Linked DNA regions of Homo sapiens. The protein of the gene in region 7 purifies or fractionates together with the protein of the main gene of each other region. This does not show direct contact. Each region holds a gene or a part of one and is shown on either strand. Other genes may lie near its edges.

What was found.
Region 1: the proteins of DEFA5 (region 7) and CLSTN1 purify together in Homo sapiens (co-immunoprecipitation; 3 studies listed by BioGRID and IntAct, with this or other methods). This does not show direct contact.
Region 2: the proteins of DEFA5 (region 7) and XAGE3 purify together in Homo sapiens (affinity purification with mass spectrometry; 2 studies listed by BioGRID and IntAct, with this or other methods). This does not show direct contact.
Region 3: the proteins of DEFA5 (region 7) and RDH13 purify together in Homo sapiens (affinity purification with mass spectrometry; 2 studies listed by BioGRID and IntAct, with this or other methods). This does not show direct contact.
Region 4: the proteins of DEFA5 (region 7) and MCMBP purify together in Homo sapiens (co-immunoprecipitation; 3 studies listed by BioGRID and IntAct, with this or other methods). This does not show direct contact.
Region 5: the proteins of DEFA5 (region 7) and TMTC3 purify together in Homo sapiens (co-immunoprecipitation; 3 studies listed by BioGRID and IntAct, with this or other methods). This does not show direct contact.
Region 6: the proteins of DEFA5 (region 7) and QSOX1 purify together in Homo sapiens (affinity purification with mass spectrometry; 2 studies listed by BioGRID and IntAct, with this or other methods). This does not show direct contact.

What each region holds. Positions count from the first base shown.
Region 1 is NC_000001.11:9,747,228-9,751,237, reverse strand, and holds part of CLSTN1 (calsyntenin-1 isoform 1 precursor), read left to right. Parts: intron 1-1,324; coding exon 1,325-1,474; intron 1,475-1,591; coding exon 1,592-1,777; intron 1,778-4,010. UniProt on the Homo sapiens protein: Postsynaptic adhesion molecule that binds to presynaptic neurexins to mediate both excitatory and inhibitory synapse formation.
Region 2 is NC_000023.11:52,865,048-52,869,567, reverse strand, and holds the start of XAGE3 (X antigen family member 3), read left to right. Parts: upstream 1-1,484; 5' UTR 1,485-1,562; exon of another isoform or gene 1,563-1,755; intron 1,756-2,266; exon of another isoform or gene 2,267-2,318; intron 2,319-2,412; exon of another isoform or gene 2,413-2,426; 5' UTR 2,427-2,434; coding exon 2,435-2,515; intron 2,516-3,029; coding exon 3,030-3,135; intron 3,136-4,520.
Region 3 is NC_000019.10:55,049,286-55,053,295, forward strand, and holds part of RDH13 (retinol dehydrogenase 13 isoform 1 precursor), read right to left. Parts: intron 1-4,010. UniProt on the Homo sapiens protein: Retinol dehydrogenase with a clear preference for NADP. Oxidizes all-trans-retinol, but seems to reduce all-trans-retinal with much higher efficiency. Has no activity toward steroids.
Region 4 is NC_000010.11:119,862,550-119,866,559, reverse strand, and holds part of MCMBP (mini-chromosome maintenance complex-binding protein), read left to right. Parts: intron 1-4,010. UniProt on the Homo sapiens protein: Associated component of the MCM complex that acts as a regulator of DNA replication.
Region 5 is NC_000012.12:88,187,198-88,191,207, reverse strand, and holds part of TMTC3 (protein O-mannosyl-transferase TMTC3), read right to left. Parts: intron 2,366-4,010; coding exon 2,262-2,365; intron 756-2,261; coding exon 586-755; intron 1-585. UniProt on the Homo sapiens protein: Transfers mannosyl residues to the hydroxyl group of serine or threonine residues.
Region 6 is NC_000001.11:180,161,101-180,165,110, reverse strand, and holds part of QSOX1 (sulfhydryl oxidase 1 isoform a precursor), read right to left. Parts: intron 1-4,010. UniProt on the Homo sapiens protein: Catalyzes the oxidation of sulfhydryl groups in peptide and protein thiols to disulfides with the reduction of oxygen to hydrogen peroxide. Plays a role in disulfide bond formation in a variety of extracellular proteins.
Region 7 is NC_000008.11:7,054,711-7,058,384, forward strand, and holds DEFA5 (defensin alpha 5 preproprotein), read right to left. Parts: upstream 2,030-3,674; 5' UTR 1,988-2,029; coding exon 1,816-1,987; intron 834-1,815; coding exon 721-833; 3' UTR 594-720; downstream 1-593. UniProt on the Homo sapiens protein: Host-defense peptide that maintains sterility in the urogenital system.

The DNA.
Region 1 (4,010 bases), on a different chromosome or scaffold from region 7:
TTGCTTTCCCACCAAAATCAAATAAAAATCCTCCTACCTGACATGGCTTTGTTTTTTTAATCTTCTTAACTTTCAGTCCACATGCATCTGAATGAGACTGACCTTTACATTTAGTTTGTCTCATTTTCTGTTCTCCATTAAGTTTTTTGTTTTTGTTTTTGTGGTTTTTTTTTGAGACAGTTTCTCACTCTGTTCCCCAGGCTGGAGTACAGTGGTGCGATCTCAGCTCACTGCAACCTCTGCCTCCCGGGTTCAAGTGATTCTCCTACCTTAGCCTCTCGAGTAGCTGGGATTACAGGTGCCCACCACCACGCCCAGCTAATTTTTTGTTGTTGTTGTTTGTATTTTTAGTAGAGATAGGGTTTCACCATGTTGGCCAGACTGGTCTTGAACTCCTGACCTCAGGTGATCCGCCCACCTTGGCCTCCCAAAGTGCTGGGATTACATGTGTGAGCCACCGCGCCTGGCCATGTTCTCCATTAAGTTAGAATCTCCTGTGACATCTTTTTTTTTTTTTTTTTTGTTTGAGGGAAGGTCTTGCTCTGTCGCCCAGGCTGGAATGTAGTGGTGCAGTCACTGCTCACTGTAACCTCGAACTCCTGGGCTCACGGGATCCTCCCGCCACAGCCTCGCTAGTAGCTGGGACTGCAGGCACACACCTGTAGTCCCAGCTATTTGGGAGGCTGAAGTGGGAGAATCGCTTGAACCCAGGAGGCAGAGGTTGCAGTGAGCCGAGATCAGGCCACTGCACTCCAGCCTGGGCAAGAGAACGAGACCCTGTTCCAAAAAGAAAAAAAAAGATAATACAGTGTTTCCATTGTTAATCAATGCACGGTCTAGAATCTTTGATGGAATTATGGACATTGCAAACACTTTCCAGAGATCTATACTCACCACGTTCAAAAAGCAGGCTTCTGTTCTAAGCAGGTGGGGGTAGGAAATCTCTCTTTCTTTTAATATAGTAAATGTTTGATCAGCGATCTTATATTTAATATTTGAGGTACTTGAATTATTATTATTTTTTAATCCTCTGAATGTATGTAAACAGTTAAATCTTAATGTAAAGCCCAATGTAACACTGTGAGAGTAAGTGGAGACTGAGCTGTGTAGCTCCGTCTCTTCTGTTGAAACTCTTCAGGATGGATTTAGTGCGTGTTAGGGCTCAGGGAGGACAGGTTGAGGGTTAAGCATCCCAAGCATATGTTTATTTCTGGCTGAGTATTTACAGGGCTTAAAGCCTATGCATTTTGTCTTTCCGCCTAGGACAACAAAAGTAAAACCAGCATGGGTTTTGGCTCTCACTGTTGTTTTTGCCCTCTGTAAGGTTATATAAAAAACACAGAGAAATTAAACTACGGGAAAGAACATCAATATAAGCTGACCGTCACTGCCTATGACTGTGGGAAGAAAAGAGCCACAGAAGATGTTTTGGTGAAGATCAGCATTAAGCCCACCTGCACCCCTGGGTGGCAAGGTGAGCTTCATTCTCTCCCCTGCGCTCACATCTGCTCTTAAAACTGATGTATGCGGCAGCAACCTAGAGTGTGTGTTTTCCTTCTCTCTTCCCCTGCTGACTTGTGGACCAACACAGGATGGAACAACAGGATTGAGTATGAGCCGGGCACCGGCGCGTTGGCCGTCTTTCCAAATATCCACCTGGAGACATGTGACGAGCCAGTCGCCTCAGTACAGGCCACAGTGGAGCTAGAAACCAGCCACATAGGGAAAGGCTGCGACCGAGACACCTACTCAGAGAAGTCCCTCCACCGGCTCTGTGGTAAGGAGACCAGGCGTTCTTGCATCCGGCTGGCTTTGGTGAAGGTGGGAGGGACCTTTACAACTGGAAATACTTGTGTGTGTTGTGTTCATAATTATAAACTGTGACAGAGAATCTGCATTTCTGAAGTGAACTTTGCTGCCTTGCTGGCTAGTTTTCATACTGGATGGGCTTCGGGGGTGGGGCAGGGGGTGGACATCAACTCCTAAACGTCTATTCAACATGTTGTGTATATGTGCATTTTAAGAACCACTGGTGGCCAGATGTGGTGGCTTATACCTGTAATTCCAGCACTTTAGGAGGCCGAGGTGGGAAGATCACTTGAGCCCAGGAGTTTGAGACCAGCCTGGGCAACACAGCGATACCCCATCTCTACAAAAAATTGAAAAATTAACTGGGGATGGTGGCATGGACCTGTAGTTCCAGTTACTTGGGAGGCTGAGCGGGAGGATCACCTGAGCCCGGGAGGTTGAGGCTGCAGTGAGCCGTGATGGCACCATTGCACTCCACCCTGGGCAATAGAGTGAGACCCTGTTTTAAAAAAAGAACCACTGATTTGAAGGAAGTATTTCTCCAGCATACTCTGAGAATCATCCAAAAAGGGCTTCTATAGGAGTACATGGAGTGAGTTTTACATGAAATGAGATGTTTACTTACGAATTGAAGACAAAGGCCAGGGCATGGGGGCTCATGCCTATAATCTTACCACTTTGGGAGGCCGAGGTGGGCAGATCACCTGAGGTCAGGAGTTCGAGACCAGCCTGACCAACATGGAGAAAACCCTGTCTCTACAAAAAAAACAAAAACTAGCCGGGCATGGCGGTGCACGCCTGTAGTCCCAACTACTTGGGGGGCTGAGGGAGGAGGATCGCTTGAGCCCAGGAGGTGGACGTTGCAGTGAGCCAAGATCACGCCGCTGCATTCCAGCCTGGATGACAGAGTGAGAACCTGTCTCAAAAAGAACTGAAGGAAAAATATAGGTAATACAATAGCTTTTGACAAACATGAAGTAGAAAATCAGAACTAAAGATAGCCACATCTAACTTAGAATCTCAATAGATTTTCTATATCACAATATTGTGTGGAGAAATTGAGAGACAGAATTACTGGGAAACCCACCAGAAGGCTAGGTCTCTCTTTACTGTCAGCTGCGGATATTTTTCTGGTTTATCTAAATGAAGAAGAGGTGAGGTATGGATGGCTGTCATGGAAGATGTTGAGGGAAGAACATTTAGTTGACTGGTGATAAAATCCCACTAAATGAAGCAGCGTCTTCATAAATTGGAAGGGTCTTTTGTGTTTCAAAAAGCTTTTGTGAAACAGCTTTTCAGGGAGCATTTTCTTAAACTGATGAGTCTTTTCACTAGCCTGATAACAACCATGAGATTTAGGTTACTGGTTTTCTTTTTTTTTTTTTTAGACAGAGTCTCACTCTGTCACCCAGGCTGGAGTGCAGTGGCGCCATCTCGGCTCACTGCAAGCTCCGCCTCCTGGGTTCACACCATTCTCCCGCCTCAGCCTCCCGAGTAGCTGGGACTACAGGCACCTGCCACCATGCCCGGCTAATTTTTTTGTATTTTTAGTAGAAACGGGGTTTCACCGTGTTAGCCAGGATGGTCTCGATCTCCTGACCTCGTGATCCGCCCACCTCGGCCTCCCAAAGTGCTGATTGCAGGCATGAGCCACCGCGCCCGGCCACTGGTTTATAATTGAAAATTATCCAGATCACTTGAGGTCAGGGGTCTAAGACCAGCCTGATCAACATGATGAAACCCCCGCTCTACTAAAAATAAAAAATTAGCCAGGCGTGGTGCGAGGTGCCTATACTCCCAGCTACTTGGGAGGCTGAGGCAGGAGAATTGCTTGAACCCAGGAGGCTGCAGTGAGCCAAGAGTGTGCCACTACTCTCCAGCCTAGGTGACAAAGCTAGACTTTGTCTTAGAAAAAAAACAATAAATAAGAAGAAAATTATCATGTGGTAAATAAACCAAAGTAGAAAACTAGACATTATGCTGCCACAGTCCAATGATGAGCATATGGGGGTGTTTGGCAACTCTGAATCCAAATATTCATAATTGTCACCTAAATATATTTAAGTAAGGAGGTCTGGCACATTTTCTGTTTTAAACCATGCATGTAAGTATAATATATAAAATTTATTCCGTCTCTCATTTCATGGTATTAAGTGAATTTTTTTTCAGCAGAATAAAGTTAGGAAGAATAGAAATAATTT
Region 2 (4,520 bases), on a different chromosome or scaffold from region 7:
TCAGGAGCTTTGCTCCTGCAATGATCATTCCTCTCTCCTGAACCACCAACTCTTCCCTCTAAATGGGATCATTCTCCAAGCTAAGGGGGGAACTCCCCTTCTTCCCCCATGTCCTCCTATAGCTACTAACACATTTATCTGCTGCCTTTCAAAGCGAAACTGCATGAACTTATACAACCCACTTCATTGGAGTCATTTTTTCAAAATTATATGGAAAGGAAAATGAACGAGAAAAACCAAAACGATTCTGAACTATAACTTTGGGGAAATCACACTACCTAATTTCAAGAGTCATGTTAATTCTATAGTAATCCAGGGAATGTGGTACTGGGGAAAAATCAACAGATCAGAATGGAGTCCAGCAATAGGTTCACAGACATGATAAACTCATTTTCAAAAAAGGTGCAAAGGCAATGGAGAAATATTATCTTCTTGAGAAATTGTGTTGTTTTCTCCCTTGCTTCTTGGCCACGACATTCATTGTTCTTTACTCCCCTGGGTCCGTTCCCCGTGTTTCTCCTTTGCAGTTCAACTGCTCTTCTGTTTAACTGTCTGTCTGCCCCACCACAGTGTGGTAGCCTCCATGGGACATACCACGTGTGGTTCCTTGGTCTTCACATTTCCAGCATCCCAGATATTTCCTGCAACATGGCAGACACCCATGCATATATAAATGAGAAAGAAGTATGTATGAATATATATAATAAAATAATTTATTTCTGTCACAAAAGGTCTGAGACACATCCTCCACTCATGGTGACATGGGACTGTCCCCAGTGTTTCTGGATGCATGAGAATGGTAGGGCAAGAGAGAGAACGAAGCCTCTTAGTCCCTTTCCTTCTACTACAAACACCTTAGGGATGCGAGCCTGGGGAGAGAGGGAAAACCCCGGGTGGCCTTGCATGTGCCTGACTCAGTGTGCACGTCCCTTGCTGCCCAAGTCCCTTGTCCATGTGCCTTGCTGTCCGCCTTCTGTCCCTGCAGAGCTGTGCAAGGAGACATCATGACTTCCTTCTGTGCTGCTGACTAGGAGTCAGCCAGTAAGTCCGAAGATCAGTCTTCCCAGAGTTGAAGTGGGAGAGACTGTGAGGAGGAGCCCGCGGCGCGGTCTATGGCCTCCGACGGGGAGGTCCTTGAGGTTCCTGTCCTTCTCCTAACAGGTGGTGACACAGCCATGGCCTTGCTGTCGTGGGGGTCCCAGACAGGGGAGGAAGGAGGGCCATAGAGGGGAGGAGGACCTAGTGAACATGGAGTGAGTTTTGAAGGGGGAAACTATTTGTGGTATTTGAGTCCCGGAGGCATATGAAACCGCCCACAGAAGACACATTCCGAAGTCTTCAGTGGGAACCTGGGAGAGGGTAGAGAACTGCGCGGCGCGGCATGGGGTGGGGCTAGGAGAGGCGCCACAGCCCACTAGGCAGGCACCGACCTCACTGCGCATGTCCACTGGGTGTCTTCCCCTCGGCCCCTTTTCCCACGTGGTGAATGCCCTGGAGTTGTGAGGGTGTGAGGGTCGCGTTCCTGCTGTCTGGACTTTTTCTGTCCCACTGAGACGCAGCTGGTAGGTCCGCAGGCCAGTCCTCCCAAGGGTTGAAGTGTGAGTGCGTGTGAGGAGGAGCCAGTGGCTGTCCGGAGCGTGGGAAAGCATAGCCCGTGGCCTCAGAGGCCGAAGGGTCTCAAGGTGATCGTCCTTCTCCTCGTGAGGTGGCACTGCCATGGGCCTTGTTGTGGTGAAGTCAGAATGAGGGAAGAAGGTGGGCCGCGTAGTTGAGAGGGGTCAGGTGAAAATGGGGCGAGTGCTGGGGGTGCTGGGGCAGGTATCCGAGTCCCTGGAACCCTCGACCGAGGACGGATTCCAGACTCCTCCGTGTCGACCCGGGAAGGAGCAGGGTGGGCATTAAGGAAGGGAACTGGGAACGCTGCGGGTTGGTGACTGTGGCCCTGAGGTCTGTAAAGCGCCTGGCAGAGGTGTACAGTGAGGAGGGCCCAGAGCTGTGTGGCAACTTCTCAACTCCACTGTGGAGGTTTGAATGGGCGGGGCTCTGCATTCCAACAAAACTTGATTTTAGGGGGGAAATGGGCCCAGCAAATGGGTGTGTGACAAAAGCCGTGGTCACTGCAGTTTTAATTCTCTGGCTGTATTTTCCCAAATGTCTCCACGGAGGAGAGTTCAGTTGTGAAACCAAACCTCATCGGAAATATCCTGTCTTTTGCCAGGAGCCTTAAGAAATTGCTCAGCTAGCTTGACCAACTTAATGGCTTCCCAAGCATTCAGAAGGCACACATACTTACACTTGCCCTGAGACTTAGTTCGAAAGTATTTACAAACTTTTAAAAAATGACAAGTTAATATTTGGTCATGGAAGTGGTCAAATATAGCTGTCTTTTCAAGTGCATTTACCAATTCACAGTATTCTGTTTGCAGTGTGAAATATGATTTGGCGAGGAAGATCAACATATAGGCCTAGGCCGAGGAGAAGTGTACCACCTCCTGAGCTGATTGGGCCTATGCTGGTGAGTGCCTTAACCTTTGATGTTTTCTATTAGCAGAAAGTTATTTTTGTAACTTGTTGTTGTTGCAAAACTATGTTTTGTAATTGTTGTTGAACCAGTATAGATATACCAATAAAGGTCTCCCATGCTGAGAAAAATAATCATGGCATCTCATGAAGGAAAGACTAGTCCAAGAGGATTAAGTTCTTCTGTTGTCTGGATGGATGATCTTGTGTTCCCCAGATTTTGCCCATGATTTCCTTCTCATGCTTATTTGCAAAAGATTACACACATTCATCCCAGCTTAGATTAAAACAGCTTCCAAAGCCCTTGAGGGCAACTGTCTTAGAGTAACCTCTCTGTGGGAAGAGTAACTTTATGAAAAATAAGTATGTGGAATCGTGTTGGAGAAATGTCTTTAGACTTATGATCAGAAATATCTATGTATTCTGTATATTTGTATTATTGAAATGTATCGATAACAAAACTTTTTATCTGCACACACACACACACACACACACACCCCTGGTTCCAGGAGCCCGGTGATGAGGAGCCTCAGCAAGAGGAACCACCAACTGAAAGTCGGGATCCTGCACCTGGTCAGGAGAGAGAAGAAGATCAGGGTGCAGCTGAGACTCAAGGTGCTGGGAAGGGAAAGAAAGAATGTCTATGGGGAGGGGAGGAGGCCTATGTGTGCATCATGCCTTATGCCATGACCAGTAACAGGAGGAAAGAAAACATTAGGAAAGGATCTCAAACATTTGCTGAGAGTTGGCTGGAAAAGTGAAGAGTATAGTTTGCAGCTTCATGGATATAATGAATCTTCTCTTACCTTTGAAATATATTTCGTATGCTTGAAAATACAGTCCTTGCTAAATCAGATGAAACTGTTTAATTTGATGTACAAAAATATACATTATTTCACTAGTTTACTTTGATCTTCTTAGAATGTTGTTGTCTGATCTTCTCAGCCAAGGTGTCCACAGTATTGTATGCACCCTTTAATAGCATGTAGAATGCCAAGTCACCCTACCTGAATACACTGAATAAAGCCCATTTGCATAAGGATGTTAGCCCCATTTTATAAATAAGAAAACTGAGGCTCTGAAATGGAGGCTTACCAAGAACAGTTGAGTCATGGAGAAGGAATTCATATTTCATTCCAAGGTTTGTGTTCTCCCTACCATTCACATTAGAAAACGTGAATGATTTTGCTTGAAATGTTAATACTCAAATGTGTCTGTACTGTAAGTACTTCAGTATTGGCTCAGGACAAAACAAAGTTCAGTGAAGCAGGATAGCAACGCCAGAAAAGAGCTCAATGAATGACAGCCACTCTTTCCTTTGCTTTGTATTTTTGAAAGTATGTTTGGTAAAATCTGGATAATTCAGGACATTGGCATACAGGTAGCTATATTAGTATGATTTTAAGGGGCTTTTAAAGAGTTGTTTATATACTTTTATAATTAGAAAACTCGAAGTACGATAAGATTATCATGAAACAGAAATTATTTCCTCAACAGAGAGCATTTTGAAGTTAAACATTGACAGAATTTGGGTCATGGGTTACTTTAGCAATTCACTGTTAAGGGGTTTCCAGAATATGACTGTCAACAATGCCCATTAATTTTTTTTTCACTCAAGTTTCTGTACTCTTGTGGAAGACAGCGATTTTGCTGTTATATTCGGTATTTTTTTGTGAATGGGATTCATTTATGGAAAGTTACATATAGGGCCTTTGGACCTAAGTTTGTTTAATTTTAACCAAAAAATTTTCAAGTTACCTCAACAGGTGATGAGTGTCAGGACTGTAAGATTTGTCATAGGCTCACCAATATATTCATCTAATCTTTCAGAAAATTACATTTAAGTTATTATTAAAATGCTATCCATTGGGCAGTCTTTAGGTTTCCTAGATAGCTGACACTCACTGTTTATAGTACACAATGGTAAAGTATAGGAAATGTAAGTGTGGTCTGATTTTTCCTCAGATTGTCATTTAAGATAAGATTTCATAGTACAGGAA
Region 3 (4,010 bases), on a different chromosome or scaffold from region 7:
CGGGAGGTTACCGGTGGGAGCCCCGGCACCGCAGGCGTGGTTTCATTCCCAAACCTGCCACCTCACTCATACAAGCAACCAAAGGACACACAGATGGAGACTGCAGCCTCAGTTTCCTCAGCTGTAAAATGCGCTGAACCACAGGGCCTTCCTCCCTGTACCACTCAGCTCGGGTTCCGTAACAAAGTGCCACAGACAGGTGGTTTAAAACCTCACAGACCTGGCCGGGCACAGTGGCTCACGCCTGTAATCCCAGCACTTTGGGAGGCCGAGGTGGGCAGATCACCTGAGGTCAGGAGTTTGAGACCAGCCTGGCCAACATGGAGAAACCGCGTCTTTACTAAAAATACAAAATTAGCCAGGCGTGGTGGCATGCACCTGTAATCCCAGCTACTCAGGAGGCTGAGGCGGGAAAATCGCTTGAAACCAGGAGGCAGAGGGTGCAGTGAGCCGAGATCGCATCATTACACTCCATCCTGGGCAATAAAAGCAAAACTCCATCTCAAAAAAAAAAAAAAAAATCACAGTCCCAGAGGCTGGAAGTCCCAGATCAAGGTGTGGGCAGGGCTGGTTCCCTCTCAGGGCCCTCAGGGAGGATCCGCTCTGGTCTCTCTCCTTGGCTCACAGGTGACCATCTCCTCTCTCCCTCTTCCCTTCCTCTTCCCTTTGGAGCTGTCTCTTTTTTTTTTTTCATTTTTCCTTTTTTAATTTTAGATTTTTCAGACATGGTCTCACTATGTTGCCCAGGCTGGTCTCAAACTCTTGAACTCAAGCAATCCTCCTGCTTTGGCCTCCCAGAGTGCTGCAATTTCACTGCCCCCAGCCTATTTTTTTTTTTTTGGGGGGGGGAGATGGAGTTTCACTCTTGTCACCCAGGCTGGAGTGCAATGGTGCGATCTTGGCTCACTGCAACCTCTGCCTCCCAGGTTCAAACAATTCTCCTGCCTCAGCCTCCCAAGTAGCTGGACTACAGGCATCCACCACCACACCGGGTTAATTTTTTGTATCTTTAGTAGAGACGGGGCTTCACCATGTTGGCCAGGCTAGTCTCACACTCCTGACCTCGTGATCCACCTACCTCAGCCTCCCAAAGTGCTGGGACTGCAGGCGTGAGCCACCACACTCAGTCTACTTGGCCTATTTTTTATATTTCTTTGAGACAGGGTCTCCCTCTGACACCTGGGCTGGAGTACAGTGGCGCAATCACTGCTCACTGCAGCCTCAACCTCCCAGGCTCAAGCAGTCTTCTTGCTCAGCCTCCCAAGTAGCTGGGGCCACAGGCATGCGCCACCATGCCCAGCTAGCACGTCTGTTTCTGTGCGCAAATCTCCCCTTTTCATAAGGACACCAGTCACTGGATTAGGGCCCACCCTAATGACCTCATTTTCACTTCAGGACCTCTGTAAACACCCACCTCTAAATGAAGTCACATGCTGAGGGATGGGGGTTCAGGATCCCAACCTATCCTTGGGGGTGGAGGACACAATGGAATTCATAATGCTCCCGAAGTGGTTTTCGGCGGGGATCGTGAATTAGGTGTCCAGCGCGTAACACACAGACACCATCTGGTTCTCTGTGTGAGAAGGAGGGGGTTGCAGCACACCCGTCATGAATACCAGCTCTGGAGCAGGACAGACAGGTTCAAAGCCTGGCTCCACCCCGACCAGCTGCATGATCCTGGCCAAGTCACATCACTTCTCTGTGACTCAGTTTACTCCTTGTAAAAAAAAAAAAAAAAAAAGGATAATAACATCACCTGCCTGGTACAACTGTATACTTACTCATTCAGTAAGTATTTTCTAAGCACCTATTACTGGGCACTGGAAATACAGGGTGGACAGCACAGCCGAGGCCCCGTCCGTGTGGACCGGACATTCCAGTGCAGCTGAGAGCCACTTCCACTCGTGAGAGAATCTACCCGTGACAGAGCTGCGTGGAAGCTGACAGGAGGCCCCTCTCAGGAGGTGACGCAGAAACTGGGACCGGGAAAATGAGGCAGGGCCCACGTGCGGAGACCCAGGGAAGGGGGATGCAGGCAGCAGGCGCAGCACGGGTAAGGCCCAAAGGCGGGACAGGGAGACTCCACTCACAGCTGGGCGCCCAGGAGTGCCGCCAGCTTCTGGTGTTTTGTTTTGGTTTTTTTTCTTTTTTTTTTTGAGATGAAGTCTCACTCTGCCACCCAGGCTGGAGTGCAGTGGTGTGATCTTGGCCCATGGCCCACTGCAACCTCTACCGCCTGGGTTCAGGCGATTCTGCTGCCTCAGCCTCCCGAGTACTGGGATTACAGGTGCCCGCCACCGCACCCTGCTAATTTTTGCATTTTTAGTAGAGACGGGGTTTCACCATCTTGGTCAGGCTGGTCTTGAATTCTTCACCTCGTGATCCACCCGCCTCTGCCTCCCAAAGTGCAGGGATTACAGGTGTGAGCCACCGCGCCCAGCCTGTTTTTTTTTTTTTCTTTTTATGAGAGGGAAGCTCACTCAGTGGCCCAGGCTGGAGTGCAGTGGCGCGATCTCAGCTCACAGCAACCTCCGCCGCCAGGGCTCAAACGATCCTCCCACCTCAGCCTTCCACATAGCTGAACCACAGGCGCCCGACACCACAAGCAGCTACTTTTAAAATTTTTTGTAGAAATGGGGTTTGGCTATGTTGCTTAGGCTGGTCTCGAATTTCTGAGCTTAGGCAATTCGCCCACCTCGGCCTCCCAAAGTGCTGGGATTGCAGGCGTGGGCCACAGTGCCTGGCCTGTTGTTTTGTTTATCTGGGAACTGCCTCAACTTTTTTTTTTTTTTTTTTTTTTTGGACACAGGGTCTCACCCCGAGTGCAGTGGTACAATCAAAGCTCACTGCAGGCCGGGCGTGGTGGCTCACATCTGTAATCCCAGCACTTTGGGAGGCCGAGGCGGGCAGATCACCTGAGGTCAACCAGCCTGACCAACATGGTGAAACCCTGTCTCTACCTAAAACAAAAAAGTAGCCGGGCATGGTGGCAGGTGCCTGTAATCCCAGCTACTCAGGAGGCTGAGGCAGGAGAATTATTTGAAACCAGGAGATGGAGGTTGCAGCCTGACCAACAGGAAGAAACCCCGTCTCTACTAAAAATACAAAATTAGCCGGGCGTGGTGGCGCATGCCTGTAATCCCAGCTACTCGGGAGGCTGAGGCAGGAGAATCACTTGAACCCAGGAGGTGGAGGATGCCGTGAGCCAAGATCCCGTCATTGCACCAGCCTGGGCAACAAGAGCAAAACTCCGTCTTAAAAAAAAAAAAAAAAAATCCCTCACTGCAGCCTCAACCTCCCAGGCTCAAGCAATCCTCCCACCTCCACCTCCCAAGTAGTTGGGACTACAAGTGCACACCATCACGCCTGCCTCATTGTTTTTTATTTTTTTTTTGAGATGGAGTCTCACTCTGTCACCCAGGCTGGAGTGCAGTGGCGCCATCTCGGCTCACTGCAAGCTCCACCTCCCGGGTTCACGCCATTCTCCTGCCTCAGCCTCCCAAGTAGCTGGGTTACAGGTGCCCGCCACCACGCCCGGCTAATTTTTTTGTGTTTCTTAGTAGACACGGGGTTTCACCGTGTTGGCCAGGATGGTCTCGATCTCCTGACCTTGTGATCCGCCCGCCTCAGCCTCCCAAAGTGCTGGGATTACAGGCGTGAGCCTGCACGCCTGCCTGATTGTTTTGTATTTTTTGTAGAGATGAGGTCTTGCTATGTTGCCCAGGCTGATCTCAAACTCCCTGATAAACAAGGCTGTGGGTACCTGCTTCCTGGGGCTCTTTGCTTTGTGTTCTTTCTAGTCGGGAGCTGGGAAGAGCCACAGCTTCCAGCTTTGTCAGAGTGTCATCTCACAAACTGATCTTCCCAAAACTTCTGTCTCCCAAAGTGCCGGGATGACAGGCGTGAACCGCTGCACCTGGCCTGCCCCAGTGTGGTAGAATACACACCACATAAAATGGACGATCTTCACTATTTTTAAATCCACTGCTGTCTTTATTCCTGGCTGTTGA
Region 4 (4,010 bases), on a different chromosome or scaffold from region 7:
CTGCTTACCGGGTTCAAGCGATTCTCTTGCCTCAGCCTCCCAAGTAGCTGGGATCACAAGCATGCACCACCATTCCTGGCTAATTTTTGTATTTTTAGTAGAGACGGAGTTTTACCATGTTGGTCAGGCTGCTCTTGAACTCCTGATCTCAGGTGATCCACACGCCTCGGCCTCCCAAAGTGTTGGGATTACAGGCATGAGCCACCACGCCCGGCCACCCCTATCATTTTCATCACTCCAAAAAGAAACCCCATACCTTTAGTAGTCTCTCCCATTTCTTCTGTCTTCCATCTCTGGCAACAACTATACTTCTGCCCATGGATTTACCTATTCTGGACGTTTCGTGTAGGTGGAATTATACAACATGTGGCCTTTGAGGTCTGGCTTCTTTTCATTTACCATGATATTTTCATGGTTCATCCATGTCATAGTATGCATCAGTACTGCATTCCTTTTTTTTTTTTTTTTAAGAGATAGAGCCTGGCTCTGTCGTCCAGGCTGGAATGCTGTGTGGCAAGATCATGGTTCACCGCAGCCTTGAACTTCCAGTCTCAAGTGATCCTGCAGCCTCAGCTTCCTGAGTAGCTGGGACTACAGGCATGTATTACCTGTATTACCACACCCAGCTAATTTTTAAATCATTTTTTGTAGATTTGGGGTCTCACTATGTTGCCCAGGCTACACTCAAACTCCTGGCCTCAAGTGACCCTCCCGCCTCGGCCTCCCAAAGTGCTGGGATTACAGATGTGAGCCACTGTACCCAGTCTGCATTCCTTTTTATGGCTGAAAATAACATTCCATTGTATGTCTATACTGCATTTTGTTTATCCATATATTTGCTGATGGACACTTAGGTTATTTCCTGGCTGTTATAAATACTGCTACTATAAACATTCATGTACAAGTTTTTGTGTGAATGTAAGCTTTTTGGTTCTTTCCCAGATATACCTAGGGATGGAATTGCAAGGTCATATGATAATTTTATATTTAACTTTTTGAGGAATTGCCAAACTTTTCCACAGTGGCTGCACCATTTTACTTCCCAGGTTCAAGCAATTCTCCTGCCTCAGCCTCCCAAGTAGCTGGGATTACAGGTACCACCAGCAAGCCCAGCTAACTTTTGTATTTTTAGTAGAGATGAGGTTTCACCATGTTGGCCAGGCTGGTCTCAAACTACTGATCTCAGGTAATCTGCCTGCCTTGGCCTCCCTAAGTGCTGGGATTACGGGCATAAGCCACTACGCCTGGCCTAAAATGTTTTTAAGAAAGGTTGTGTGAGAAGAGAACAAGAGGCACATTATATAATGTTAAAACAGTCAGTTCACCAAGAAGACCTAACTATATATGCACCAAGCAACAGAGCTTCAAAATGTATGATGCAAAAACCAGCAGAAATAAAAGAAGAAATAGGCAAATCTGCAATTGTAGTTAGATATTTTACTACTCCTCTCTCAGTACTTGACAGAATAGTGGGTAGAAAATCAAAAAGAATACTGAACAACACAAAACTACACAACACTGTCAACCAAGTAGATCTAATTGACATTTGTTTACCTAATGACAGCAGAATACACATTCTTTTCAAGTGCACATGTAAATTCACCAAGATAAACCACATTCTGGGTCATAAACCAAATAGTAAACTTTATATATAAGAAGAACACTTCTAAACAATCCATGGATTAAAAACTCTCAAAGGAAAGCTTTGAATATTGTGAACTAAACCAAAATGAAAACTCAACATACCAAAATTTGTGGGATACAGCCAAAGACATGCTTAGATGCATTAGCTGCCTTAATTAGAAGAGAAGGTCTCAAGTGAATAATTTAAGCTTCCACCTATGAAACTAGAAATGAAGAGCAAAATAAACCCAAATTAAACAGAAGAAAGAAATAATAGAGAACAAAAATCCATGAAATAGAAAACAGAAAAAAAAGAAAAAATCAGTGAAACTCAAAGCTCTTTAAAAAAAAAATCAATAAAATTGTAAACCTCTAGCCATACTGGCAAAGGAAAAAAAAAAAGGAAAACAAATTACCAATAGTAGAAAAGAAAAAAAGGAAGACAAATTACCAATATTAGAAAAGAAAGAGGAGATAACCACCGTAGACTGTACAGGCATGAAAAGGATAATACAAACAGCTCTACAGATAGAAATTCATCAACTTAGATGAAATGGACCAGTTCCTCAAAAACCACTGTATTAGCTTTCTATTTCTCCTGTAATAAATTACAAATGTAGTGACTTTAAAACAAAAGGTTTTTATTTACAGTCCTGGAGACAGAAGTCTGACATGGGTCTTACTGGGATAAAATCAAATTGTTGACAGGACTTGCATTCCATTGTGGAGGCTTTAGGAGAGAATCTGTTCCTTTTCTTTTCCTGCATCTAGAGTCTGCCCACATTTCTTGGCTTGTGGCCCCCTTCCGTTTTCAAAGACAACAAGTCGAGTTGTTCTCACATCTTACTCTAACTTCCTCTTTTGCCACATCCTTCCACATTTAAGGACCGTTGTGATTACATTGAACCCACCCAGATTGTTTTTTTTTTTAAGTTCAACTGATTATTAACCTTAATTCCATCTGCTACCTTAATTCCTATGTAACATATCTTTACAAGTTCTGGGGATTAGAACATCAGTATCTTGGTTGGGTGGGAGGGGGTCATTATTCTGCTGATCACAGCCACAAACTATCCAAACTCACCCAAGTAGAATAATATTTCACCTTTTACGTCTGGCTTATCTCACTTAGCATAATGTTTTCAAGGTTTATTCCTGTGTCTTCGTTGCTTTTTTTTTTTTTTTTTTTTTTTTTTTTTTTTTTTTTTGAGTCTGAGCCTCACTCTGTCTCCCAGGCTGGAGTGCAGTGGTGCGATCTCAGCTCACTGAAACCTCCGCCTCCTGGGTTCAAGCAATTCTCCTGTCTCACCCTCCCGAGTAGCTGGGATTACAGGCGTGTGCCACCACGCCCGGCTAATTTTTGTATTTTTAGTAGAGACGGGGGTTTGCCATGTTGGCCAGGCTGGTCTTGAACTCCTGACAGGTGATCCGCCCGCCTCGGCCTCCCAAAGTGCTGGGATTACAGGCGTGAGCCACCCCGCCTGGCCCTCGCTGCATTTTAATAAAGATACAAAAGCTAATTCAAATGGAAAAAGGATATTCTTTTCATCAAAGACATGAACAATTTAACATTTACATGGAAAAATAAAATCCTCAACCTTTACCTCATATTTTATATAAAATTAACTCAAAATGGATCATACATCTGAGTATAAAACCTGAAACTATAAAACTTTTAGAAGAAAACAGATCTTTGTGACCTGGGGTTTGGCAATGAGTTCTTAAGACATGACACCGAAGGCACAGTGCGTAAAACAAAAATTTGATAAATTGGGCTTCATCAAAATTAAAAACCTTTGTTCTGTAAAAAAAAATTCTATTAGGAGCATGAAAAGACAAGCTATACACTGGGAGAATATATTTGAAAATCCGGTATCAGAAAAAGAACTTGAATCCAGAATATATAAGAAAACACAGCAGTAATTTAAAAACTCAATTTTAAAAGGGGCAAAAGATTTAAGTAGGCTTAAATAGACATTTCACCAGATAGGATACAAGGATGGCAAATATCCCCCTGAGAAGAGTTCAGCATTGTTAGCCATTAGGGAAATGCAAATTTAAGCCATGATATTGCATATTAGAACAGCTAAAATTTAAAAATACATAGTGATAGTACTAAGTACTGGCAAGGATGGGAACAGCTGGATCTCTTAGCAAAATGGTGCAGCCACTCTGGAAGACAGGTAGAATCTTAATCATACATTTACCATGTACTCAACTGTGTCATATCTAGATACTCATTCTAGAGAAATGAAAGCTCATGTTCACATGAAAACCTGCAGACACGTGTTTTATAGTTTTGTTTATAGTTGTCAAACCTGAAGACAATCTAAATGTCCTTCAGCAAGCAAATACATAAACAAATTGGTTGTTATTCAGAGGAATAA
Region 5 (4,010 bases), on a different chromosome or scaffold from region 7:
AAAGGAAAAAATGTTACAAATTACTATTAGTTTTCTGGACCAGGCTACAAAACGAAGTTTAAAAACACATTTTTCCTCAAAAGTAATACAAATGATAACACATACATGAGAAAATAAATGAAGTTTTAACATGTGGTGCCAGAAAACTTTTTTTTTTGCTGAGAACCAAGATGTTTTCTTTGTGTCAAAGGCATCAATAACCAATCAACTCTAAAAACAAGAAAGTTCCTGAGAGTTTGATATTAGAAGTAACTATTATAAAATGTAAGTTTCAAGTTTTAATTTAAATAGGAAAAGAACAATTTTGGTGATGGGAAGAAAATGCAACTAAGACAGAGCTGCTTCTACCCTTTCCTTAATACAAAACCTAAGTTGGCTATTACAAGTTAGGGATTCCCCTTGTTAATTTCAAATCAATAAAATCTGACTGTCAGTCTAAAAAGTTATGCTCTTCTATGCACTTGGTTGCTAAGTAAGATTATTAAAAACATAATTTTTTTTCAAAAAAAACCAATTCATTCAAAATGTACATGGAGATGCAGTTTCAATATTCCATAATGATAGCTTAAAGTTGAACTGGGATACCTGCTAATGTAAGCCTGCTTGAAGTCGGGCCTCATGCTTATTGCTTGACGGTACAGCTGATCTGCTTCTTCCAGTCGGGACTCATTTGCTCGGATCAGGTTAGCCAGATTGATATAAACATTTAGGTGGTTAGGGGCAATTCTGGCTGCATATTTTTTACCAGGAATAATCTGTTTAGAAGAAAAGGCATTTTCATGATTTGATATTTCAGTATCAAAAATCAAAAGTACATATTCCTATTGGCTAATTCAAAATAACTCAGAACATACTGTAAAAAATACACTGGACTGAGAGATCAGGGTTCTACTCCTGTTTTGACTAAACCTAAGATACCTTGACTTCTAAAAGTTCTGATTTGTTTGACTTCAGAAAAAGACAGATACAAATAAAAAGCTAATAATCCACTGAGGTGGCATGAATGAAAAAATATATCCTTAATGCCACAAAGTACTATTTTATTTACATTTTTGAGGATACTGTAAGTAAAATATTTTTATTCACATTTTTGTGTGTGTTTTCTTTTACATTTTTATTATTTATTTTTAACAAAGTGGTAAAATTAGTGGCATAGTCTTATGTCCTCAGAAAAAATAGCTTAAGCTGGGCTGAAGTTTTCTCAATTGTAATAATATTTATAGTAATATTAATAGTGATAGGATAGTTAATTTTTTTTAAAGTTGAACTGTATGACATTTTAAGGATTATTTTAATCCTTAACTGTAACAGTTAAATTGTATTTGTTATTGGTTTTTATCATATCTAATTTATTGTGTTCACTGGAAGTCTCGATCCATATATACTATGTATTATAAAAACCTTAACTTAATAATCAGACTGTTTAATTTCCAAACTTCACCAGACAAGTGAGTCCTTAGTATTCTGGAATAAATTAACTATCCTACGGTCACAACCCAGAAATATTTTGCTGATAACATGAAAATTGACATAGGGTAAGATCTTCCAATTTCGATACTACCTTATATTTAATGAATCTTATTCTAACAACTGATGGACACAATATAGTAAGAGATGTATCTACTAATTTTATCACTTTATTTTTTGATAGGAATAATGTTGAACTGTATGCTTAATATACATAAATAAAATTATATTTATTTAAAGTCATTAACTTGCTGATAACTCATAATCAAGAATATCTAAAATTCATACTTTATGAATTTAGTTTTTACAAATGGACTATAAAAACAATTTTTAAAATTAAGTGAGCTACGGCCGGGCGCAGTGGCTCATGCCTGTAATCCCAGCACTTTGGGAGGCTGAGGTGGGCAGATCACGAGGTCTGGAGTTCGAGACCAGCCTGGCCAATATGGTGAAACCCTGTCTCTACTAAAAATACAAAAATTAGCCGGGTGTGGTGGCAGGCACCTGTAGTCCCAGCTACTTGGGAGGCTGAGGCAGAAGAATCACTTAAACCTGGGAGGCAGAGGTTGCAGTGAGCTGAGATCGTGCCACTGCACTCCAGTCTGGGCAATACAGCAAGACTCCGTCTCCAAAAAAAAAAAAAAAATTAAGTAAGCTAGAAAAATGTAATTCTTTATAAAACTTACTTTTATATCAACTAACTGAAGAAAAGATAAAGATTTTCCTTCTAGATAATTCTATTCAATATGGACATCTAATAGATATGACACAATAGATAAATTATGGCAACTTACTTGAGGCATCAGTGATTTAGCCATCATGTAAGATTCTTCAGCTTCTTTGGTTCTATTTAAATTTTTATAAGTTCTTCCTACATTCATATGGGCACCAATATCATCTAAAATTTTAAAACAATCATTTGTTGGCAAGTATACAACTGATATATTCAATATACTCAATGAAATGATTAAATGTATTTGATATATAAACAAGTATTCAATGTAACTAATGAGAAGACATATTTCCAGAAACAAACACACTAGGCAAAAATGCAAAAGCAGGCAACAGGTCCTGCTTCTTCCTTAAAGTTCTTGTAATTTAACTTGTTATAACTTAAAACCAATGGTATACACAAAATTACTTAAAGCATGTAAAGACAGAAAATACATACATGGCATGAAAAAACTATTTGAATGGATTTTTGAAGAGTTGAGACATAAGAGAGATAAAGGTAATGAAGAAATTTTTATTACCTTCCTTCATTGTATTTTACTACACTAAAGCTTGCTTCCAGAGATAAAGGTAATGAAGAAATTTTTATTACCTTCCTTCATTGTATTTTACTACACTAAAGCTTGCTTCCATTTACTTAATCTCATAGCTTAGGAATTCACTCAAAAGGTACAGCTCAACTCTACAAGTAAAATGAATCATCAGGATTTTTAGAATTATTTCAAGTGTTATAACAAATATGCATCATGGTGGAACAGGGGCAAAGAGACTGAAAAAAAACTTTGCCATTCGATTTTTAAAAATTTTTGTGACTGTGGCTAGAATGAGAGTATAATGGAACATAATGATAATAGTATTACTTAAGATGCAGTGGCCCAGCTCTTTTAAATGATAATTAACTCCTTAAAATTAATTTTAGATTTTTTTAAAAGGTTGTGTTAATTTTAGAATGTCAGGAACTTATGTCTCATTTTCTGATGTGGAAAGTAAAAATCCCAGCAAATTTATTCAGGGATAGGAAAAAAAATGTAGCTGAAATAGGAAAGAGATGAGGATTCATTGTACAGTAGCTTTTTAAAAAGATATACTTGCCAGTAAATATTTCAAAGGTTTGGAATAATGATAGAAGGAAGGTAGAAGATCTTAAATCAGACAGTTTATACTCAACACGAACTAAAATACATGAAAAGGTTCATTATGATTACTACTTGCCTTGTGATACCAATTATTTTGCAATTGTGCAATAATTCTTTGCCTGCAACTCCTAGGACACATAGGGGCCAAGCATATATATCTTGGGCATTCCCTGAGTAACAGTCCTAAGAACTTGCTATATAATGTTTTAGGCTGGCAATTGTGTGCACTGCACAAAAACTGGCAGATGCGGTCCAGGTTTGATTATAGATAAGTTTAGGAGTAAGGAAGTAGATTTTTTTCTTTTTAGATGTATTGCTGAGTCTCATGGAGCCAGGAGGGGTCAAGCAAAAAAAACGTTTAAGCTAGCCATTCTTAATTCTGGCTGCAAATCAGAATACCTGTGTAGTTTAAAAAAAAGTCAGATACTTCAGCCCCACCTAGGTCCATCAAAACATAATGTTCAGAAATGAAATCTGCAAAAATATGTTCATAAAAAGTGTCAAAGGCAATTCTGATGTAGAATCAGGGCTGAAAATCATTGTATTATCCAATTGCATATAAAATATGCAGTATAGTGATTAGATCAGGGTATTTGCTTGCATTATATGTATCAAAACATCACTATATATCCCATGAATATGTACTATTATTGTCAATTAAAAATATGGGGTAGT
Region 6 (4,010 bases), on a different chromosome or scaffold from region 7:
TTGAAATGTGATCTCCAATGTTAGACGAGGTGAAAGGTATTAGATTAGGTAGTGAAAGGTATTAGATCTTGGGGGCAGATCCCTCATGAACAGCTCGGCACTGCCCCCTTGATAACGAGTGAGTTCTCACTCTGAGTTCTCATAAGATCTGATTGCTTAAAATAGGGTGGCACTTCCCAACCCCCTCCTGCTTCCTCTCCTGCTTTGCCTTCTGTCATGAGTAAAAGCTCCCTGAGGCCTCCCCAGAAGCTAAGCAGATGCTGTGTACAGCCTCCAGAACCCTGAGCCAATTAAACCTCTTTTCTTTATAAATTACCTAGCCTCAGGTACTTACTTTTATCAATGCAAAAACACCCTAATACTCCACCCTAGAACTTACTCCTTACGACGTCTCAGAAGAACACAATTTCAGAAGGTATCAGAGCTCCTAAGAACACGTTACGCCTGGGGAAGGAGTGTTACCCTCACCTCCACGAGACAGATGCAGGAAGAGCCTGGCACACCCTGACGCATCCCTGGAAAGAAGGCAACTAAGCTGGCCCTTCTTGGGGCTGATACAAGGGAGGGGGCTCTGCGAGCTGGGAGGAAGGCCTGTGGCCACACCACCCCCTTCTTTCCCCCACCTTTCTTGCTGGTAGTCTGCTTTTGGCATTGTAGCTTCTGGACTCCTCGAAGGAGGGAGGTGGGTGGGGGGTTGGGAAGAGGAAGTAGATGGAGGTATTTACCAGAGTCAGACGTCAAAAGTATTTAGCAGAGTGAGGTGAGCTACATCCTATGATGCCATTTCCCCAACCTCCTCAACACCCCCCCACCACACACTTTTTGGGGAGCCTTCTTGACTCCCTTAGCACACAAGGATAGCAACTTGAGCCTATCCAAGTATCTGCAAGCTGGGGTGCATCCTTTGGCTTTAAACCTCACCTGCAAGGCAGCCTGCACAAAGGCAGGTATGGTCAGGGCCTGTTGCATGCCAGGCCCAGGATGCAATCCCTCTGCCCCTACCAGGGGATTGCTGATCCCCACCTGCCTCCACATCCTGTCCACTCTCCTCTGAAGTCTCTTCCCTCACCCAAACCTCCATCTCTTCATGCCTGTCCTAGGTTGGCATGAACCCGTGATCTGGTTTTTTACTGACCTCACCTCCAACCTACCCTCCGTGTCCCATGAGCTAGTACAGGTTCTCATGGCAGGGCTTCCAGAGAAACATCAACATATTATTTCTCTCCTGGTGAGGTTCTAATGTGCTCCACCCCTCACTGCCCTCTCTAGCCACCAAATGATCTTTTCTTTCTGTGGATCTGATTATGTCAATCTCTATTCAACATTCTCTGGGGGCTCTAACTGACTTTAGAAGAAAATCTACAACCAGAAGGCAGTTCTTCATTTGGCCCCTGTCCACATATCCAGCCTCCTCTTACGGTTATTTTACGTTAAATTAAGTCATAGATATTCATAAAATATCATTTCTAAGTAAATTAAAATACTGAAACATTAATTGCTGAACATAAGTCTAAAGTATATATGCTTTGGCATCTTGTTTTTGTATGGCATAGAGAATATAATTGGGTCTGTAATAAGCATGAAAAGCTGAGGAAACATGTTTCTAGAAATTATGAAATGGTGAATGTTAATAGAAGACAGTTCACAATGCTTGCTAGTTTTCACTAGAAATTAAGATTACTAAGGAGTAAAAACTAATTAATATAAGCAACTAAAACTAAAAATAATAAGGGACATAATTCTGTATGCAAGGGAAGTATGGCACGGTTTATAAAGGAAGTCATAAAATGTAAGGATGTATTTTAATTAAGGGAAAAAGAGAGTCATTTTGTTCTAAAGTAGAGTGACTGGTTATTTCACAATGAGAAAGAGGAACAGTACAGGACAAACCAATGGATACAAGGAAGTTGTGAAGAGAAAAGAACTTCAAGTGTGGTCGAATGGGCTAACTTATAGTTTTTGTGTTTTTTTTTTTTTGATGAGCCTTAATATCAAAAGTACACTGATGAAAAATCAGAATTTGGTCCTCTCTGTTAAAACAAGGTTTTCTTGAAGTATTGATCTGTTCTTAAAAGGAAACAGTGAAAGGTTTTTCTGTACCTTTTAGGTAATTCTCCTAAAGAAAGATCCTTTGTTTCATCAAGATGATTCCCTGTGCTTCATGTTGTCTTTACTAGGTCCTTGATTACTTAAGAAAATGGAGTCCTCTCTATAAAAGAGCTGTTTTTTCTGCAACAATGTAACATTCTATATTTTCATTTTGAAGTCTTTTAATTATCATTCTGGTTAGATGAATGACTGTGACTTCACAGTGACCTGTGATCCTATTTTGATCAAGTGATTTTTTTTGTTTTGCTTTTTTGTTTTTGTTTTGAGATAAGGTCTCACTATGTCATCCAGGCTGGAGTGCAGTGGTGCGATCGTGGCTCACCTGTCCTCAATCTCCTGGGCTCAAGTAATTCTCCCACCTCAGCTGCTTAAGTAGCTGGTACCACAGGTGCACACCACCACACCTGGCTAATTTTTTAAAATTTTAATATAGAAATGGGGTCTTCCTATGTTGCCCAGACTGGTCTCGAACCCCTAGGCTCAAGGTATCCTCCTGCCTCGGCCTCCCAAAGTGTTGGGATTACCGTCATGAGCCACCATGCCCAGGCTGATTAAGTGTTTTAATTTTAAACCTTTGACATTTTGTACAAACTTCCCAAAATCAAATTCTAAATTAAGGCTTTCTGAACTTGAAGTAACTTTGGAACATTTCAGGGGGCCCTGGAACATCTCAAAGATTCTGCAAAGGGGAGATACTAAACTAGTTAGGCTCATTTGATGTATTAATTATATGGGAAGCATTGTCAAACAAGAAATGATGTTTAATCTTCTTTGAGTTATATTTATTGATGTATGTTTATACTTGCTATTAAGGTGTATCCCCAAAATTATATGATATTCCTAGAAATATGATACATTATCAGCCTTAATTTTGGTTATTAGGTTAAAATGTTGTATGCACAGCAATAACCAGATTTCCTTGTCAATTGTGTCATTATTACTATGAACTCTCATCAGATCTTTAACCACAACCATTTTAAGTCTTATTGTCTACAGTTAATTGCTTTATTCTGATGTTTTTCTAAAAGCTTTTTTCTAAGCAACTATAATCCTGAAGTGCTTCATCTTCAAGGAGATCCACGGAAACGTCTCTGATAAGTACCATTTCTGATAACTTCGAGATAATACGATTGGACTGGGAAAGAATTTCCAGAACTCTAATGAAAAAAACTGATGGGTCTGCAAAACTGATAACCAAGATCAAGCACAACAAGAATTAATTACATGAGACTAAATGAACTAATGAAGAATTATGGGTTTTTCTGGTTTTTAAATTTGAAACGTTGCTGGTTCTTTTTAATGTTTTGTTGTCCAGATTTAAGAAAACTTATTTTCTTTTAAGCTATCTATAGTTTACAGCAATTTGGTAAGTATACTCTTGTGAACAAAAATGGAAACATTTTCTCCCTACAAGACCTCTCTGGAATTCAGAAACTATTTGTGAATATTCCTATTTTTATGGCAATACTGTTATTTGCATAAGTTCAATAAGTATCTGCTCTCTTTACAACAGGATACAATAGGAAACACTGGTCATATTACCAAGGTTTTGAGTGTGATGCCATACTTGAGAATATACCTATGATGAATCTATAGGTACTGCAGGTGAAATCTGAAGTTGGGCTTGGGTTGACTTCCTAGCCTTGAGAAGTTGTTAAAAGTCCAATCTGAGATTCCTTATCGATAAGTTCTAGCAAAGCAAACTTAAGAAGAGCCTACGTGGTCAATCACTATTCTTGCCACACTTATGTAAATAATTAGGCCAAGTCTGATGTGACTAAATATTTTCTGCAAGCAAATTAGTCTGAATTTTATTTTATTTATTTTATTTTATTTTATTTTAGATGGAGTCTTGCTCTGTCATCCAGGCTGGAGTGCAGTGGTGCAATCTCGGCTCACTG
Region 7 (3,674 bases):
TTTTTGCCTCTCATTGTAAACTTCTACTTTTTGAGTATCATTAGGAATGCATTGAATTTTTAAGTTTCAAACTATTCCAATTAACACTTATATCCTGTCAGGAATGGTGGCTCAAGCATGTAATCCTAGCACTTTGGGGGGCTGAGGAGAGCAGATCACTTAAGCTCAGGGGTTCGAGACCAACCTGGGCAATATGGTGAAACCCTGTCTCTACAAAAAAATACAAACCATTAGTAGGGTGTGGTGGCACATGCCTGTAGTCCCAGCTACTCAAGAGGCTGAGGTGGGAGGATCATTTGAGCACAGGAGGTCAAGGCTGCAGTGAGCCGAGATTGCACCGCTGTACTCCAGCTTGGGTGGCTAAGTTAGACACTGTCTCAAACAACAACAATAAAAAACCCAATTATATTCATTTTTGTTATTTTGTTATTGCTCTATGATGCTCAAATTGTGCATCATTGGAATGCAAAGACCAGTTAACTTAATGTAGATCAGAATTCTCAATACAAAGGAACCATACAAACCACCATATAACAAAGCAAAAGAAAAAAAAGGAAAAAGAAAAGAAAATTAAAAAGGTCAAACACACTAAGTTTAATGCTTGAACTTTATTTTGGAGAGAGAAATTTAGAAAGACACAAGGTACACAGAGTAAAATGTTTTTCTTTTTTCAGGACCTTGAACTGAATCTTGCACTGCTTTGGTTTCTATCTAGGAAGCTCAGCGACAGCAGAGTCTGTAGAGGCGGCCACTGATTTCACACACCCCGGAGAGGGACTCACGGGTAGCACAACGGCCGGTTCGGCAATAGCAGGTGGCTCTTGCCTGAGAACCTGTGGAAAGAAGAGAGGGTCAGGCACAGCGAGGGAGGTGGGAAAAAGGACAAGCACAGCCAGACTAACTGAGATAGTCTAAATAAGAGACACTGTATCAGTCATGTTAGGATGGAGAAAATTCATGTCTTTGTCGTAAGTGACAAGAAATCTTACTAGCTATGTGTTAGTCATGCAAGATCATAGTTTTTTTCCCCATGTGAGTCTATCCAGGATGTATTTATTACCTGCTCCCTGGTCCAACAATATACCTCTCAACCTCAGGGTTACCTACTCTTCATTCTGCTTCATCCACACGCCTAATCTTGACCTCCATGTGTGATTTCCAGGTCCTAACAAGGCTCCCTAAAGCACCTGAATCAGTTTCTGAAATGCCGCATTGTGCATGCTAATGTCATGGACCAAATACTTTGGTGCTCAAGGAGTCTTTGAAGACTTTCCAAATTCAAATTCTTCATTCTCTGTCTCTCCTTTTTTTTTTTTTTTTTTTTTTTTTAACATTTTACATATTTACTTGTTTTAATTGACAAACAATAATTGTGTATATGTATGAGACACAATATGATGTTTTGATCTAAGGATGTATTGTAGAAAGATTTAATCAAGCCTATTAGCCTACATCAAAACACACCTATAGGTTCCTCTCTAGGTTCTAAAAGCTTTTCCAATGGACAAAGTAAAACACTCTCTATATAACTAAGTCTGCCCATTTAGATCTACAAAGAACTAGTCAGTGTAGCTCTTTCTATCTTAAAAGTAGCAAATTTCACAGAAATATCTTGGAACTGAAAGTCTTAGAAAAAAGAAAATCTTTTAGATTTATTTGGTTCTCACTGATTAATTTATAGATGAGAAAATCAAGGTCCAGGAAGATTAAGTAAAGTCACTCAAGTGAGGTAGACCTTTCCACACTTGACTCCAGATCCTTTCTCCAATCCTTTTTTTCTAGATTTTGCAGATGTGCAAGATTGATGTCTCCTACCTGAGGTTCTAAGAGCAGAGAGTCCATTTCCTGCAAAGGAGATAGCAAGGTCCTGGTTGTCTTCCCCAGACTGCTTCTGGGTTGTAGCCTCATCAGCTCTTTCCTGGAGTGACTCAGCCTGGGCCTGCAGGGCCACCAGGAGAATGGCAGCAAGGATGGCGATGGTCCTCATGGCTGGGGTCACCTGCAGGAGGGAGAGCAGGAGTGGATATGTGGGGAGTGAGGAGTCAGCCTGGATTTATAGCTCTGCTGGGAGAAGACCTGAGACAGAAGCTGCAGTGAGAGGAGGTGGGCATGTGATTGGGAGGGGAAGGACTGCCTTTGTTCTCAAGATCCCTTTGATGCTCCTCTTTCTCCCAGCTTTCATCAAAGCGTGAGTCTGTATGCTTAATGCCTCTTCTTGATCCAAGGTGTTAATGATGATAAGGGTATTACTATCCTGTTCTGTTTCCCATCTGCTTGAGTATTTACTTTTATATATTCAAAAAAGAAAAACAACAGCGCTTTCATTCAAGAAGTTTGGGGATCAAATGCCTCTTGTTTTCTGAAGATGGTCCCTGGTACTCTCTGGATGACTCTCTGGGGGCAGACCTGGGACTCAGTGGAGTAGAGAGTTAATTCATTGCAGGATTCAGGGATATTACTAACCTCATGTAGGAGGCTTTTGAGATCTCGAGGTGAGTAGTCTCCCGCTGGTGCCAGTATGGAGAGGTCAATGACCTTATCAGGCTATAGGGGAAATGAGTTCAGTAAAATAGTAGGCCAAGTTTATCAGATTAAAATAAAAATTCGGATTTAGTTCAAGGAGTTGGTGTGATCTGAATGCATCACATAAAATGTGTAGCGGGTACTTCTCTCCACTTTGGGGAATATCAAAGTAATTTAGGTGCGTACAGCCCCTTTCTGAGATTTTTTTTTTAGTTTTAGAAAATTGTAAATCATGCACAAGGAACAACATTCAAAAGGTAGAAGTCATGAGCTCTCATTTCTACCCCCAGGCCTTCAGTTCTGACCCAGCAAACCATCACTATTAACAGTTACACATAGTATTCTGCACTTCGCTTTTTTCACCTGTAACATTGGCACTTTGTATATCAAAATACATGGAATGCTATTATAATTTTAATAGCCTTATACTATCCCAGGGTTTGTATATGCCATCACTTATTTTTTGTACTGATAAAATATTATAAAATTATTACAATTTGGTTATTTTTAAACTTTTGCAGTAATAAGTAAAGTTACAGTGATTATCTTGTATATATGTTCTCTTACCTATATGGATAAACTTATAGAAATAGAATTGCTGTGTCAAAGAATGCATCTTAAGCCAGCATGGTGGTACATGCCTATATTTCTAGCTATTTGAGAGGCTGAGGTGGGAGGATCACTGGAGACCAGGAGTTCGATACCAGCCTAAAAACATAGTGAGACCCCTTTCTCTTAAAAAAAAAAAAAGAGACTATATCTTACACATTTTTAAGATATTACTACATATTTCCATAATATCACCATATTTGATCCAAATCCTTTGGGGCTCAGTGGGCCCTTGGAGAGTCTCTATATTTGAATTCCTCATTTAATTTTTTTCAAATTTATTTATTTATTCATTGAAAAATAATTTTCTGTATATTTGTAGGGTATGATGTGACGTTTGGATTGATATCCACATGGGAGAAACACATAAGCTAATTAAGATAGCCATCACCTCACCAACTTAATTTTTTAAGGAGAATTACAAATTGATTCCTTTAGCAGTTTGAAAGATACAATACATCACTATTAACTGTGGTCACCGTGCAGTGCCATAGATCACTAAGACTCTCCAGCATAACTGAAACTTTGTACTCTTGGCTCAA